Linked DNA regions of Homo sapiens: region 1 is reported to be linked to region 2. Evidence: microRNA targets listed by miRTarBase, many of them from high-throughput screens and not tested one by one. Region 2 holds a microRNA gene; the other region holds the end of a gene's coding sequence.

The links. Region 2 holds the annotated microRNA hsa-miR-7856-5p (UUUUAAGGACACUGAGGGAUC, at 4,314-4,334, shown strand). A microRNA usually pairs through its seed, bases 2 to 8, with sites in the 3' UTR of a target mRNA and lowers its output. Matches are read on the target gene's strand: a 7mer-m8 pairs with bases 2 to 8, a 7mer-A1 pairs with bases 2 to 7 and ends in A, and an 8mer does both.
Region 1: miRTarBase lists MYT1L as a target of hsa-miR-7856-5p. Seed matches in the 3' UTR shown: 7mer-A1 at 6,066-6,072.

What each region holds. Positions count from the first base shown.
Region 1 is chr2:1,785,768-1,792,876 of GRCh38, forward strand. It overlaps MYT1L (myelin transcription factor 1 like), which reads right to left. Exons shown (of 25, transcript NM_001303052.2): 24 at 6,554-6,697; 25 at 3,346-6,240. The coding sequence ends at 6,100. Among named protein-coding and RNA genes, the nearest start is that of PXDN, 45 kb to the left of the region's middle.
Region 2 is chr1:86,354,876-86,361,998 of GRCh38, reverse strand. It overlaps MIR7856 (microRNA 7856), which reads left to right and starts at 4,312; the gene lies at 4,312-4,367. It overlaps ODF2L (outer dense fiber of sperm tails 2 like), which reads left to right. Exons shown (of 17, transcript NM_001366781.1): 11 at 1,463-1,573; 12 at 3,108-3,212; 13 at 5,397-5,555.

The DNA of each region.
Region 1 (7,109 bases), not on the chromosome of region 2:
CACATCCCTGTGTTTGTGGGTAATACTGATCCTTCTTTATTTCCTTATCTTACCTTGCTCAACGAAGATTCGAAGAAACTGAAGGGACACAAACAATGCTCTAGAAAGAAAAAACTCATTTAATTAAAAAGCAAGAAGAGGATGAGAAGAAACTAGGATGCAAGGATGGGGTCAGAGACCAGAGGTGACTCCATCCAGAGGAAAGTCCAGCATGCCCCACATTTGGCCTCACACAGGGGAGGCCTCATTAGGACCAACAGTGAGGCTTCCCCTTAGGCCACTCTATTTGATACTGAAAATGAGGGTGCTCAGGGGCTGCCATGTGCCTGTTTTATTATTATACAAGGAGGTCTATGCCAACTACATTTATTAGGATGGGATGTTTTCTTTGTGTCGTTTCCCACTTGACCCAGTGTCTGAACAGTGACTGATAACTTGTGTGTGTCATAGTAAGTGAAATACAAAGGATGAAAGCCTGATTATCTTCATGTACTTAAATTGCTTCTCCCTTAAGACCCTGAGCTCTGCCTCATTACCCAGCTGTGTTGTGTAAACCAGTAAGTATCTGAGACAGGTCTCAACCAATTCAGAAGTTTATTTTGCTAAGGCTGAGGACTAAACTCTGATTTTTTTTATCTTGCCCAAATTCCTATTGAAGGGGTCTGGGGAGTCACGCCCTGCAAACTATAAATTCTCATCAGATGGGTTTTATTTAACCTGTATATCATGACTTACTTTTCCAACCTGACTCTGGCATAACATTACAAGACAAGGAAGAAAATCAAAATATTTTACCCCAAAACATGTATCTTTGCCATATTTTGAAATGGCCCTGCAAAGCTGTTCTTTGTAGGGGGAAATTTTGCATCTGTAAAGAATCTCTGTTAACATAACTGGATCTTTTTCTTCCAGGCCTTCTCAATCCTGAAGAGATTAACTAAGATCCGAATAGGAAGGCCGGGCGAGGTGGCTCACGTGCCAATCTCAGCACTTTGGGAGGCTGAGGTGGGAGGATCACAAGGTCAGGAGTTCACGATCAGTCTGGCCAACGTGGTGAAAGCCCGTCTCTACTAAAAATACAAAAAATTAGCCGATGTGATGGTGTGCACCTGTAATCCCAGCTACTTGGGAGGCTGAGGCAGGATAATTGCGTGAACCCAGAAGGCGGAGGCTGCAGTGAGCCGAGATTGTGCCATTGCACTCCAGCCTGGGCAATAATGTGAGACTCCGTCTCAAAAAAATAAATAAATAAAAAAAATAAAATCTGATAGGAAACATTAGTCATCTATTGTCTCTAAGGGGAGCCACTATAAGACTTCACAAGAACTTTGGTTTCCACAGTCTTTATCTTAACCTGAACATTCCCTTTCTATCAATCCCAGGTCTTTAGACAAACTCAACCAATTGTCAACCAGAAAATGTTTAAATTCACCGATAGCCTGGAAGCCCCCACTTTGAGTTGTCCCACCTTTCTGGACCAAACCAAAGTATTTCTTAAATGTATTTGATTGATGTCTCATGCCTCCCTAAAATGTATAAAATCAATCTGTGCCCTGACCACCTTGGGCACATGTTCTCAGCACCTCCTGAGGGCTGTGTCGTGGACCATGGCCACTCATATTTGGCTCAGAATAAATCTCTTCAAATATTTTACAGAGTCCAACTCTTTTTGTTGATAACAAATGCCCCTTCATGCATTTGTAATTTTTTTCTGTACTCTTCATCTACTTTATCATAATCCCCTTATTACAAGGTTTTTATAGCCATTATTTTAAGAGCTCTCTAGTACTCCATAAAATTCATGGATCATGAATTGCTTAATCATTCCTCTGTAATAGGACTTTAGGGTTGTTTTTATTGATTTTGGTACATTTGTAATTGTTTTGGTATTTCTAGTATAGACTGAGATTGAGGCAAAATATAAATTTTCTAAGATTTTTGAAAATATTGTGAAATTGCTTTCTAAAATATTTACATCAATTCTCAGGCAAACTGTTCCTATGGACAAATAGCTTTTAATAATCCTAACAGACAGGCCTGAGCCAGCACATCATTAACTCGGCTTGTTCCTAAAGACAGCCTTTGACAGAGCTTCTTCCACCCTGCGGGTCTAGAGAGACAGAGATGCAGGGTGGTAGGAGTGAGAGTCGCCTCTCTCTTCTGTCAGCTCTGAGGACTCTACCAAGGACTGGAGGGGGACTCACTGCAATCACCAGTGCTTCCAGGAAGCAGTGCTGTTGCAAATGAGCCATCCGAACACACTAGCTTATAAGAAGTGCTCAGAGGACCTTGAATCGTGAAGCAGCTGAAGGCACCACTGGGAATAAATTATGAAATTTAACTAAGATTATCAGAGTCCCTTTCTCAAATTTTATATTTTGGGTGATTGTGTCTATGAGAGGAGGGTATTTTTGGAATTTTAAACCATGACATTAACTAATATAGTTGATGTGAAAGTGGGTAATTCATTGTTAAATTATATTTGAAGGGCAATTTAAGTTTATGGGTGACTTGCTGCCGGGATCCTTGCCAACAGCATGGAAGTAAGAAGGCATCATCTTTCAACACCCAGGTAACCAACGATGGGCTGCCTGTCCTTCTGCTCCCCTGACGTGAAACTGGAGAAGGACACGTCTCCCAGTTAACCCGAATCAGTCAGGAGGTGGCAGCCAGTTTGGGACATTTTGTAAAACAATGGCCCTGGGCAGTTGAAAACTGTCTGTGTTCTGGGAGACAGGCAGGCCGAGAAACTGCTCAGTAATAAGAGGTGACAGGGACAGGAACAGGGACAGGGACGGAGCAGCTGGGAGCAGTGCACCTCCTCTGGGAGACAGGCAGGCTGAGAGTCTGCTCAGTAATAAGGAGGTGACAGGGACAGGGACAGGGACAGGGATGGACCAGCTGGGAGCAGCGCGCCTCCTCGACTGGATTCCAGAAGAAAGGCTCTACAAAGGACGTGACCGCCCTGCCTGGGCGCGCTGAGATGCTGACGCATGCACAACGGCAATGCCCCCAAGTGTGGTGGCTGCAGGGCTGCTGGTGGAGAATTCCCTGCCCAGGGGAGCCCTGTGCTGGGAGGCACCGTGTCCTCCGTCCAGGCTCGCTCTCAGATGGCCTAGCCCAGCGAGGGGCAGGAGCGACAGCAAATGGGAAAAGGACGGCCCAGTGGGGATGCCGAGACACTCACATAGTTTTCTAAAAGTCATTGACTTCTATATGCCTCGGAGTTGAGAATCAAACTGGTAAAAATGTTAAAAGCAACTAAGTTGGAGTGAAAGGGTTCGAGTGGATCCCACGGGACCCCAGACAGCATTTCCCAGACTCAAGTGAAGACGCAGACCCGGGTTAGAGATCCTTCGTGCTACAAATGTGGCAACACCTTGTTTATTTAGAGTAAGATGTGTTAACATCCAGCATGACAAAATTTGTACAAAGTTCACAATTTAAAAATGAAGTATCACAGCAACTTGTGATTCCACACATTTATAGCAAAATTAAAGTGTCAACAAACCCATGCCGTGTAGTACAAAAATAAATCAAACTTCAGTTCCACAGAGAGCACAATAAATAGTTTATACAAAATTCTGTCTTAATAAATGATTACTTAAATTAACTTAGAAATGAATATGAACAATAAGTTATAATAAACTCTGATGACTCACAATAATCCATATGAAAGGTCAGCATTCTAATATGTGACACTTTTGTGATCCCTATATAATAGTCACAGATAACTTTTGATTTGAGATTATGTACCAACGTTAGATGAGCAGCAGGTTTGTGCTTAAAATCCCTTTCCATTGTACATAGGTGATAACAATAAGAATCCAAAACTGATACTATCTAGTACTCTACTAAAAGCATTACTATATTGGCAAAGAAGCTGCAGACACAACGCGGTGGGGAAATGCATATGCTGTTATGAACAATGGGGGCCCTAAAGGCAGCTGGGGCCCTGGGCCACACGGACGGCCTCAGGTGACTGCAAGCACCTTGCTTCAGCTCTCAAAACGCATTCTGAGCATGGCAGCTGCAACCAATAGCACAACAGAAAGGGGGCGCTGTACAGAGAAGGTTCCGCAGAGCCCCGAAATAATTACATCGTCTTTTCCCAGCTAGTTATTAAAGTCCTTGTGGAAAACTGTAAGCTTTTGTACAGTGAACAGTATAAAGTGCCGCTGGGATATACATATATTTATACACATATATATATACCGAGGTTGAGTATTGTATCAGAATATTCGTCGTGAGATCCCTGTAGTCTCCCTTTGCAACATTATTGATCAGCCGTGAGGGCTCCTCTATAATCCATCCAGGTTCAGTGTCACAAGGCTACTGACACGAGGAATTGCACACCTCCGTACGGATATATAGGACAAGGTAAGTGCAAATAGTCGACTGGCACATTGTGGGGACAATGACCCTGTAAGTCCTGTTCTGCTAAAAATATTTTTTTTTTATTTTTACAAAACCCATCTTTTTTTTATTTCATAACAAAAATTTAAAGTACGTCTGTACTTCCTGCATAACATCAAGACATGGAAGGAAGAGATGCTACTAAATGGAACTCAAGTCAACATCAGAAAACACAACACGTCGTCAAAGGACTACTCAGAAGGGGGAACACAGCGCTCAAAAGTGGTCTTATGCATACATATAGTGCAGTCATTGGGAGTAAAACAATCAAATCTGGAAGGTATAAACAAGTCTAAGATGATCTAGTTTAAAGCAAAAAAGTGCTGAAGTATATTTAGTTACTTTTAAAATCTGATTGCATTCATTCTTAGAATAGTCACAAGAAATCAAACAATGAGGCTCTGCAAATGCTCTATGGTCAACTGGTCTCCACCCAAGTGTAGAACAGAAACGTCGTGGTAAGAGTCCTCTGAATAGGACCAAATGCTGATTCAGAGTCAAAGTCGGGCGGGGGGAGCAGGAGGGAAACTTTACCGAGCTGCCTTCCCACCAGATCCAGCAGAAAACTCGGTCCAGTAACTAGAAGACTCACAAATCATTTGCCTTTATCCCTCAAATGTAAAATAAGAAGGTTCATAACAATAATAGGAATAATCATAATTTTTTAAAGTGAAAAGGGGAAATAAATGTTCTTAAATTATCTTTTAGCTTAAATCGAAAACACACAAATTCTGTTGATAAACTACATTGCAATAACAGACAGTTCAGAGGGGCACGAAACTCTAGGGGAGATACGAGAAGGTTGTTCCAAAGTTTATTGAAAATGGAAAAGGAAATCTTCACGTTGTCCACCTCTGATAAGATCCTGTCTTAACTGGAGTTTCCATAGTCACAACCATGTAACGCTTAGGAGTTAATTTAAAAGTGCTGTTTAAGCTGCTTTGAATCTTCTGCCAAGTTTCCATGGCTTGATGTTGTCTTACAATAAATTACTTATTTCATTTCTTACAGTTAATCCATATGCCATTTCCTTGGAATGCAAAAAACCTCATTTATTGCCCCCACCATACACCATCCTCCTAAAACAAACAAACAAAAAAGTCACATAATATTTCCAAGCATTGTTCAAAAATAAAGCATTTTTGCAACGAATTCTTGCTATGAAACAATATGCACACAAAATGTATTTCTTAAATTCCATAAAGTCCTCCAACATGAGGCAAAATGATAACGTCTAAAAAGCGGCTGCTCAGCCACAACATGATCATTCAAAGCTGTGGGTCTGTGTGTGCGTGTGTGTGTTTGTGTGTCCATTTCAGTTCAAAATACTAAAACATTTAATCACTAAAGCATTAAAAAGAATTTACACTCTATTTATTTTGATCAGCTTACCTCTTCAGAAATAGATATACCCCCAAATGTGCATACATCAGCAGCTATAAACATTACATGGCAGAACACTATGTCAGCTTACATGGAAACGTACAAAATGTGGGTGTATTCAAAAACTATTCTGCAGGTACTATCTTTAAAGCAAGACATAAAATCATTATGAAGTCTTGTAAGCATAACACTGTTTCAAATTCAAACAGAAATAAATATAGAACACTTTCTGGTAAGTTACAGCAGCAAAAAACAAGAGGCATCCTTTTTAAGCAAGAGTTTCATCACTACAGCAGCTGTTCAGACCTGAATTCCTCTCACAGCCTGCTTTATATTTTCCAGTAGGGCTTTATTTTCTGGACTCTGATAACGATCTTGATTTGTATACATTTCCGTCAAAGTAGTCACGTAAGCATCAAAATTTTGTTCATTGATTGGATCCTACGAGATATTAAATAGTAGTTCATATACAACTTTTATTTTCTTAATAGTATATTTACAAAAGCATAAAATAGTATCATAGCATAGTGCCCCTGGTTTTATACTATTTCAAAGGCCGGCTCAGAGCACACTTAAGTTTCTGGGGTCAGCCCCGCCCATGTTTCTAGCAGTTAATGGTATGGTTTCGGGGTGGTAACCACAAACATTTGCCAAAGGCTGAAGAACCATGAAAATAACGATAAAAACGGCATCTACTTTAGGCTGTGCGCTGTGGAGGACTCCACATTCCTGCCTTGCGTGCTCAGTCACTTACCATGTGCGGCAGCTGGATGTTAGCCAGGCTGTGGATCAGAGACTGGCTCAGGTTCGCCAGCTCGTGGAGGAGAGACTCGTTCTGCTGCTCAATCACTTTGTTCTCCTCTTCGATGGTCTTCAGGTTGCTCTCCATCGTGGTAATCTGAAACGCACAAGTGTGCGTGACATGTAACACCAGGAGGACCTAGGAGCGCGTGGTCGTTGCCGGGGGCCACAGTCTACTGGGTGCGAAGAAGGGGCCTCTCGCTGAAGGAGAAAGGCTTCGGGCCGGGCGCCGTGGCTCACGCCTGGAATCCCAGCATTTTGGGAGGCCAAGACAGGCAGGTCACTTGAGGTCAGGAATTCAAGACCAGCCTGGCCAACGTGGTTAAACCCTGTCTCTACTAAAAATACAAAAATTAGCTGGGCGTGGTGGCGTGCGCCTGTAATCCCAGCTACTCGGGAGACTGAGACATGAGAATAGCTTGAACCCGAGAGGCGGAGGTTGCAGTGAGCTGAGATCACACCATTGCACTCCAGCCTGGGTGACAGACCGAGATTCCGTCTCACAAAAA
Region 2 (7,123 bases):
GCCTTCGCCCACATGTCATTCCTAGCTGCTTTTGTGTTTGATGTATTTTACTGCTTGTTCTTATTTTTTGTCTGTCTGCCCCTCCAGTATGTAAGCTTCATGGAGGAAGGGAATGTCGTCTGTTTTGTTCACTAATAGAACCTTCAGTGCCTGCAGCATTTTAAAAAGTAACTAGTGAACATATTGGCTCATGTATTCATCAATCATTCACATTTCTGCCTTTTTGAATTACCTACTCATTATTTTTTATATTTGTCTTTTGTCCTAATTAATATATAATAACTATATTAAGGATATTAATCTTATATTTGTTTTATTTTTCTAATGACAAATGTTATTTGACAAGACATCAAATTTGTCATTTGCTAATACTTTTTCATATTTTGTTTGCCATTTAAACTGTATTGGAAAGCTGTGAAATTTTGGAGAGAGATACACGCACACACATTTTTTTAAATGGCTTCTCTTGAGAGTGCTCTCACAGCTCTGCACATCTTGTAATCAAAGATATTGTCCATGTAGACTGTCTTTTGAAGGATGTTTGTATAGTAGATATCCTTGGAATATGGTAACCGTGTCTCCCTTAGGAGTATGGGTAGGCATGCTCACTGCCTGCTATAAGAAATTTGGGTTCCCTAAACTCAGGTTTGTTCTTCTGTAATGCATTTGACTGCATATACAGTTGCCATCTGGCCTCTGGGTTGCTCTGTGGGAACTGGGGCTCAGCAAACTGATACAAATGCTGACAGTCTTGCTACTCTTATTGCTGTGAGTAATAAGTCCCCTGTCTCTGACCTAGGAATCTTGTACCTTCTGTTAGCATCCATGAAATTGCAGTAGACTAACTAGTAAGCTTGCAAGGAAGATAAAATCTCAGACTTTTACATTTCTACATATCTTCTTTTAATTTTATGCTCTTTAGGACTTTTGCTATCCTGAAATGAAATACAGTTTTATCTGAATTGTCTGAAAATTTTTAAAGTTTTTATTTAATTCATTTGATGCTTCTTTAGTGTTGGGCTGAGGCAGGTAGTTAACCTGTTTTTTTCCTAATAGTTAAACAGTTGTCTTATTGTCATTTATTTAGTTGTCCATGTTTCCTCCATTGATTTAAAAATCTAACCTTTATCATGTATTAAGTATAATTTTTGTGTATTTTTCTTTTCCAGTAACCTCTGTATTCTATTGATTTTTCATATCTAGGCACATTTCCAAGTTTTTTTGTCAGTAAATTTAGAAAGTTTTAAAAATAATATGTCCTGTGTAAATCTTAATAAGGATGTTCATAATTATTAGTCACTAGCTTTGTGAAATTCCTAAATTTTAGATGGTATTGCATGAAATAAAAAATAATTATTTTATCAACTTTGTTAATACATGAGTTATGTTTTTATAATAATTCTGTAGCACTGGAGTATAAATGTATTCTAATGACTTATAAAATCTATATCTTTTTTGCTAGACTACACTTGCTGCTTTGAAGGATGAAGTTGTATCTGTTGAAAATGAACTCTCAGAATTGCAAGAAGTAGAAAAAAAACAGAAAACCCTTATTGAAATGTATAAAACTCAGGTGACTACTGCATTTATTTTAGTGTTTACTAAAATTGGTAGACAATTTAAAACACTATTTCTTTGTAATCTAAATAAATAGAACTGAAGAGAGGTGGGGCTATCATTGTGGGTTATAATATGGTGTGTCTCAAATATTTCTTAAGGTCCCACACATCTTTATAAATAGATGATTCTGCTGATTCCTGATTCAAACACTGCATATGGATATACTGGATATTCCTAAAAGTAGATTTAAAATGAATTACATCGGTATAATGTGACCCTTAATGTATTCTTGTTAATCTTGGTTATATTTGTTTGTCATCATGTGTATTTAATGGTATTGATTTAGATTAATGACTCCCTTCTAGGGTCATTAAAGTTCATTATGCCTCCTTTCTCAAGAAATAAAGTATAATTCAGATTATTCACATGAAAGACCAAGAAAAGAACATATGACAATATATATGAAATAGACCATGTGTTCAATGGTAATTTATAGAAAACCTTTATTTTTTTGGAAATGTAGTATTCAAGAAAAAACTTCATAAGATGGGACTTATGCAGGTCCTTGCATGATGGTTAACACACTGGTCAGAGAGAGTTTGAATTAAAGAATAATGAACTGGCTGGGTGTAGTGGCGTACACCTGTAATCCACTGGGAGGCTGAGGTGGGCGGATCATTTGAAGTCAGGAGTTCGAGACTAGCCTGGCCACCATGGTGAAACCCTGTCTCTACTAAAAATACAAAAATTAGCCAGGTGTGGTGACATGCACCTGTAGTCTCAGCTATTCAGGAGGCTGAGGCAGGAGAATTGCTTGAATCCAGGAGGTGGAGGTTGCAGTGAGCCGAGACTGCACCAATGTGCTCCCAGCCTGGGCAACAGAGCAAGACTCCATCTCAAAAAAAAAAAAAAAAAAAAAGAATGAACTAAGGATGAAAGCTTAAGGGGGCCAAAGTGTGGGCAAGTAGGAAGGGGCTGCATCTCGATGGATTAGATGGGAAAATTAAGTTGAGACATCCAGTTAGAATATTTCAGTCATCCAGGTCTGAGGTAGGAATGGAGGTTGTGGTGGACTGTGGGACTTGTTATTCATCAGGGTCTTCCAGCTGGTTATTTGGGTTTAATCCCTCAGCAGGAATACTGTGGTTGAGTGACCATATTCTGGGTGCAGGGCCTAGAATTTTTTTTTTTTTTTTTAGCAGATTTTGATTTGGTGGGAAAAATAATTTAAATGGAAGCTAGTTTGGACCAGAGACTGATTCTTTGAAGTGACATTGATCTGCAAATGAAAATCTTTGTAGTCTTCAAAGCTCAAGTGGAGAGTTTAGAAGTATTGATGAGAGAAGACAGGTAAATCAGACAAAGATTGTGGGTTAGAGTAGAGCACTGAGTGATTCCATATTTAAAGAAGTAATAACATTAGATGAACCAGTCAAGGATATTGATAGGAAAATAATGACTTGTTTAAAATGAAATTTTAAATTTTAGATTTTTATCTCATGTTATGATTCTAAAAATAATATGTTTCTCTAATACTTTATTTTCAGGTACAAAAGTTGCAAGAAGCAGCTGAAATAGTAAAAAGCAGATGTGAAAATTTGCTACATAAAAATAACCAAATAACAAAAACCAAAAATAAAAATGTAGAGAAGGTACGTTTGGAATTTCAAATAAATAATATTTTATATATTTTTTACTTTATGAATAGTACACAAATTCATTCATTTTGGTCATTTTCTCTAGTTCATACTTAGGAAAGGGCTAGTCTTAGCCTCTGTAAGAGTTTGTTTTCCAAGGAAATAATGTTTCTTCCAGGCTGGAAATGTTGTTTGTTTATGTGAATGTTTTTTCACTTTTTTGTTAATATTTGGAAAATAGCATAAATGTTTAATTTTTCTGATGCAAGAGCAGACTTTAAATAGCTCAAAAAATGGTTATCAATCATAAGTATACAAACCTAAGTATCTCTCATTTTTAATCTCACCCTTTTTTTCTGGTTATAAATGTTTTACGTCTACAAAAGCAAAGCCAATATCTGCTAAATGCATTTTTGAAGAAAAATAATATCTTTTAAAAAACGATCATTTCCTTTTATTTGTTCTATTGCAACAGAATGAAGGGAAGGCCAGTGTTGGCGAGTTATGATGTTTTTGTGAATATTTTAAAATTTTTAAATGAAACCGCATCTCTGTTTGGTTTTTTGTGTTGTTTTGGTAAAGAAGCAGTGAAAGTTGTAGGATGCTGACTCCTGGCAGCAGAGGTCATGCGATGTTAGTGGTCGCTTCCATCTGAATCTAATAAGGTTACTCTCTCTGGGTTGCTCCCTATCTTAGGATTGAGAAGTCAGAGCAAGGCAATAATGTGAAGAAGAGGTCAGCCAGAGCAAGCGTCCTCCAGTTATACAGACATAAAGATAGCTCACTGAATGCACAACTTACTGCTTTCATGGAATTACTTTTCACCTATTTTTAGCAGGCCAGCGAATAAACCATTTCATGTCTTTTGGTCTCATTTTCTCATGAAACATACCAGTGCAAATGTCTCCTTTTCTGCTAGGCAGCACTGTAAATAAAAGCATATTTTACAATCCTGTTCAAATGACGGAAAGGGTTGGAGCCTGTCTTTTTCAGATACTGTGAGGTCACAATGTTTTCTAACTAGTATTTAACAAGACAACTATTTTTTTAATGAAATTTTTCTTTTTCTTACTTCACTGTTTTAAGTCTCCTGGTTTTCTCATGGCCTCTAAGATGTTTTAAGGACACTGAGGGATCCTTTGTTCTGGATCCCTCAGTGTCCTTAAAACAGACATTTTTCAGTCTGTTTTTTTTTTTTCCTGTTTTACTTTATATACCATCAGAATATGGATCATGTGTATCCTGTTAGTAGCCACATAGCCTTCTCCTAGCTCAATGCCTAGCACGTAGTAAGCACTCAATATTTTTTTAATTAATGAAATTTTTTTTAAAGGAGCAGTCCAAGGATGGCGACAAGTCTTTTTTCTTTTACTTTCAAGACAGTTTTAGGAAGCATTCCCTGTCTGTCTTCCAAATATAATCTGGATTTTAATTTTGCAAAAAAAAAAAAATACTGCATTATCTTTCCTGATCAAGAATGCCAGATACTACACAGAAACTATTAGGTGTTCCTGTCTCAGGGAAAGAGTCTGGCTATTTTTTGTAATTAGCAGTGCAAACATTTCTTAAGGTTGCTGCTTTTCACATCTCCACGAAAGTGCTGCAGCGAGGAACTGCAGTAGCCAAAACAGATTAATGTAGATGAAATTAGAGAGATTTGTTGATAGTAACATTAATGGCCAAATTAAAGGCAAGTGAGAACTGATGATACTAGCAATTTTTAAATAATATACAGTAAACCCTATCAGTTTTGGCTAAGATGAGTGAAGCAAGCTGCTCTAATTTAAGTAAGTATCTGAGTTATAAGATTGAATGACTAAAAGTGACAATTCCTTTAGAACCTATAGCTGGGCAGTAGACAATTACGGCTTTATTAGTAATGGTTATTAGTGATAATCTATGCTTGAATATAATGTCAGGATTTTAAAAATTTGCTCTTAAAAATTAGTTAAACATCCACCCTGTCAGCTAATTTACCCTATTTATGTGCTCAACAAACTTTTTGAAAACTAAAGTCTACCCCACTTTTTAGTTATACATTCTTATTTAACAGAGTTTAATATTTATTCAGTTGTGTTCTTATTTAAAGCCATTATACCTAAAATACTTACGTTATAAGCATATCTAGTATTTAAGATAATAAAAATATTAATGCTGAATGTGTGATCTTGCACTTATTTCCCTACTGCCACAACTCAGATGAGAGGCCAGATGGAGTCTCATCTGAAGGAGTTAGAGCGTGTCTGCGATTCCTTGACGGCGGCGGAACGGAGGCTTCACGAGTGTCAGGAGAGTCTGCAGTGCTGCAAGGGGAAGTGTGCAGACCAGGAACACACCATTAGGGAGCTTCAGGGCCAGGTGTCCAGCCGTCCTTCTGAGTTTTGCTAGATGCGTTAAAAGAATGCTTTGGAATGATTTCACCAGTTGAGGGCACTCATGTCAGGGCTTGATTTTTAAATTCCCATCTACTTAGTTCGTAAAACATCATTTTCATGCAGATACTATAATACAGTTTTGCAAGCTATTCTTTTAGTATTTTATGGTGAAAAATTGGTAATTAAAATTCTTATTTTAGTTTATTCATGCAAATCTATAGACATTTGAAGACATGGTAATAGAATGAGAGAAGGAGCAAAGTTATACTTACATATATGTTCCTTGATGTAAGGATAAGGTAAATTATTGAAACTTACATTACAAAAATTGAATTTATTTTAATTAGAATTGTACGTCAAGTTTTTTGGGATATTTTTCAGTCTGTTTCTTTTTCCTGTTTTACTTTTTATACCATCAGAATATGGATCATGTGTATCCTGTTAGTAGCCACATAGCCTTCTCCTAGCTCAATGCCTAGCACATAGTAAGCACTCAATATTTTTTTAATTAATGAAATTTTTTTTAAAGGAGCAGTCCAAAGATGGTGACAAGTCTTTTTTCTTTTACTTTCAAGGCAGTTTTAGGAAGCATTCCCTGTCTATCTTCCAAATATGATCTGGATTTTAATTTTGCAAAAAAAAATACTGCATTTTCTCACTTAAAAAGTAGGAGCTAAATGATGAGAACACGTGGACACATGGAGAAGAACAACACACAGTGGGGCCTTTCAGAGGGTGGAGAGTGGGAAGAGGGAGAGGATCAGAAAAAATAACTAACAGGTACTAGGCTTAATACTTGATTGATGAAATAATCTGTACAACAAACCCCCATGACACAAGCTGACCTGTGTAACAAACCTGCATTTGTACCCCTGAACTTAAAAGTTAGATAAAAATATGCAGACAAAATTTTAGTTTAAATTCCTGAGAAGAGATTTTTCTAGTAAAATGTCAAACGACATAGATTAGCCTAAATTACTAATTGAAATTATGAGAAAAAAATTTTTTCCTTGAATCAAAGCTTCTTACATTATTTAGAGCAGATTTTGAAGCAGTGGGAAGAATATTCTGTCTTGGCATGGGTGAGTGTGTCTTTGGTTGATTTGTTCACTTTGCTTCTCAAAAAAATATGTATTTTATTTACAGTTTCGACTTCACAGATACTCAATTATTAATCAGTATTTTTAGGTGAAACAGAAAACCATAAGAGAAACCCTAGGTATCCAAAAATAGGAGATTAATACTGCTTAAAATTTTCCTATTTCAACTTAACAAAATAAATATCTTTCTTCAATAAGGTGTTGTTCAAAGTGTTTTAATAGCCATCATCCTGAATTTTTTTTAGTTGGTTATTTTCCAATACAGGCAACATAACTTCTTTAAATTTAACCAGGAATTTAAAACTTCCATTTTAACAATATAACATTTTCTTGGTGTCTTTCTGTGTAAGAGTAGTAACATTTATACCTTCTCGTTGCTTGTGGTTGTTCTAACAATAAATTATATGGATTTCTTTGGAAGTTGATTGTGAAGAAAATGACTAAGAAAACT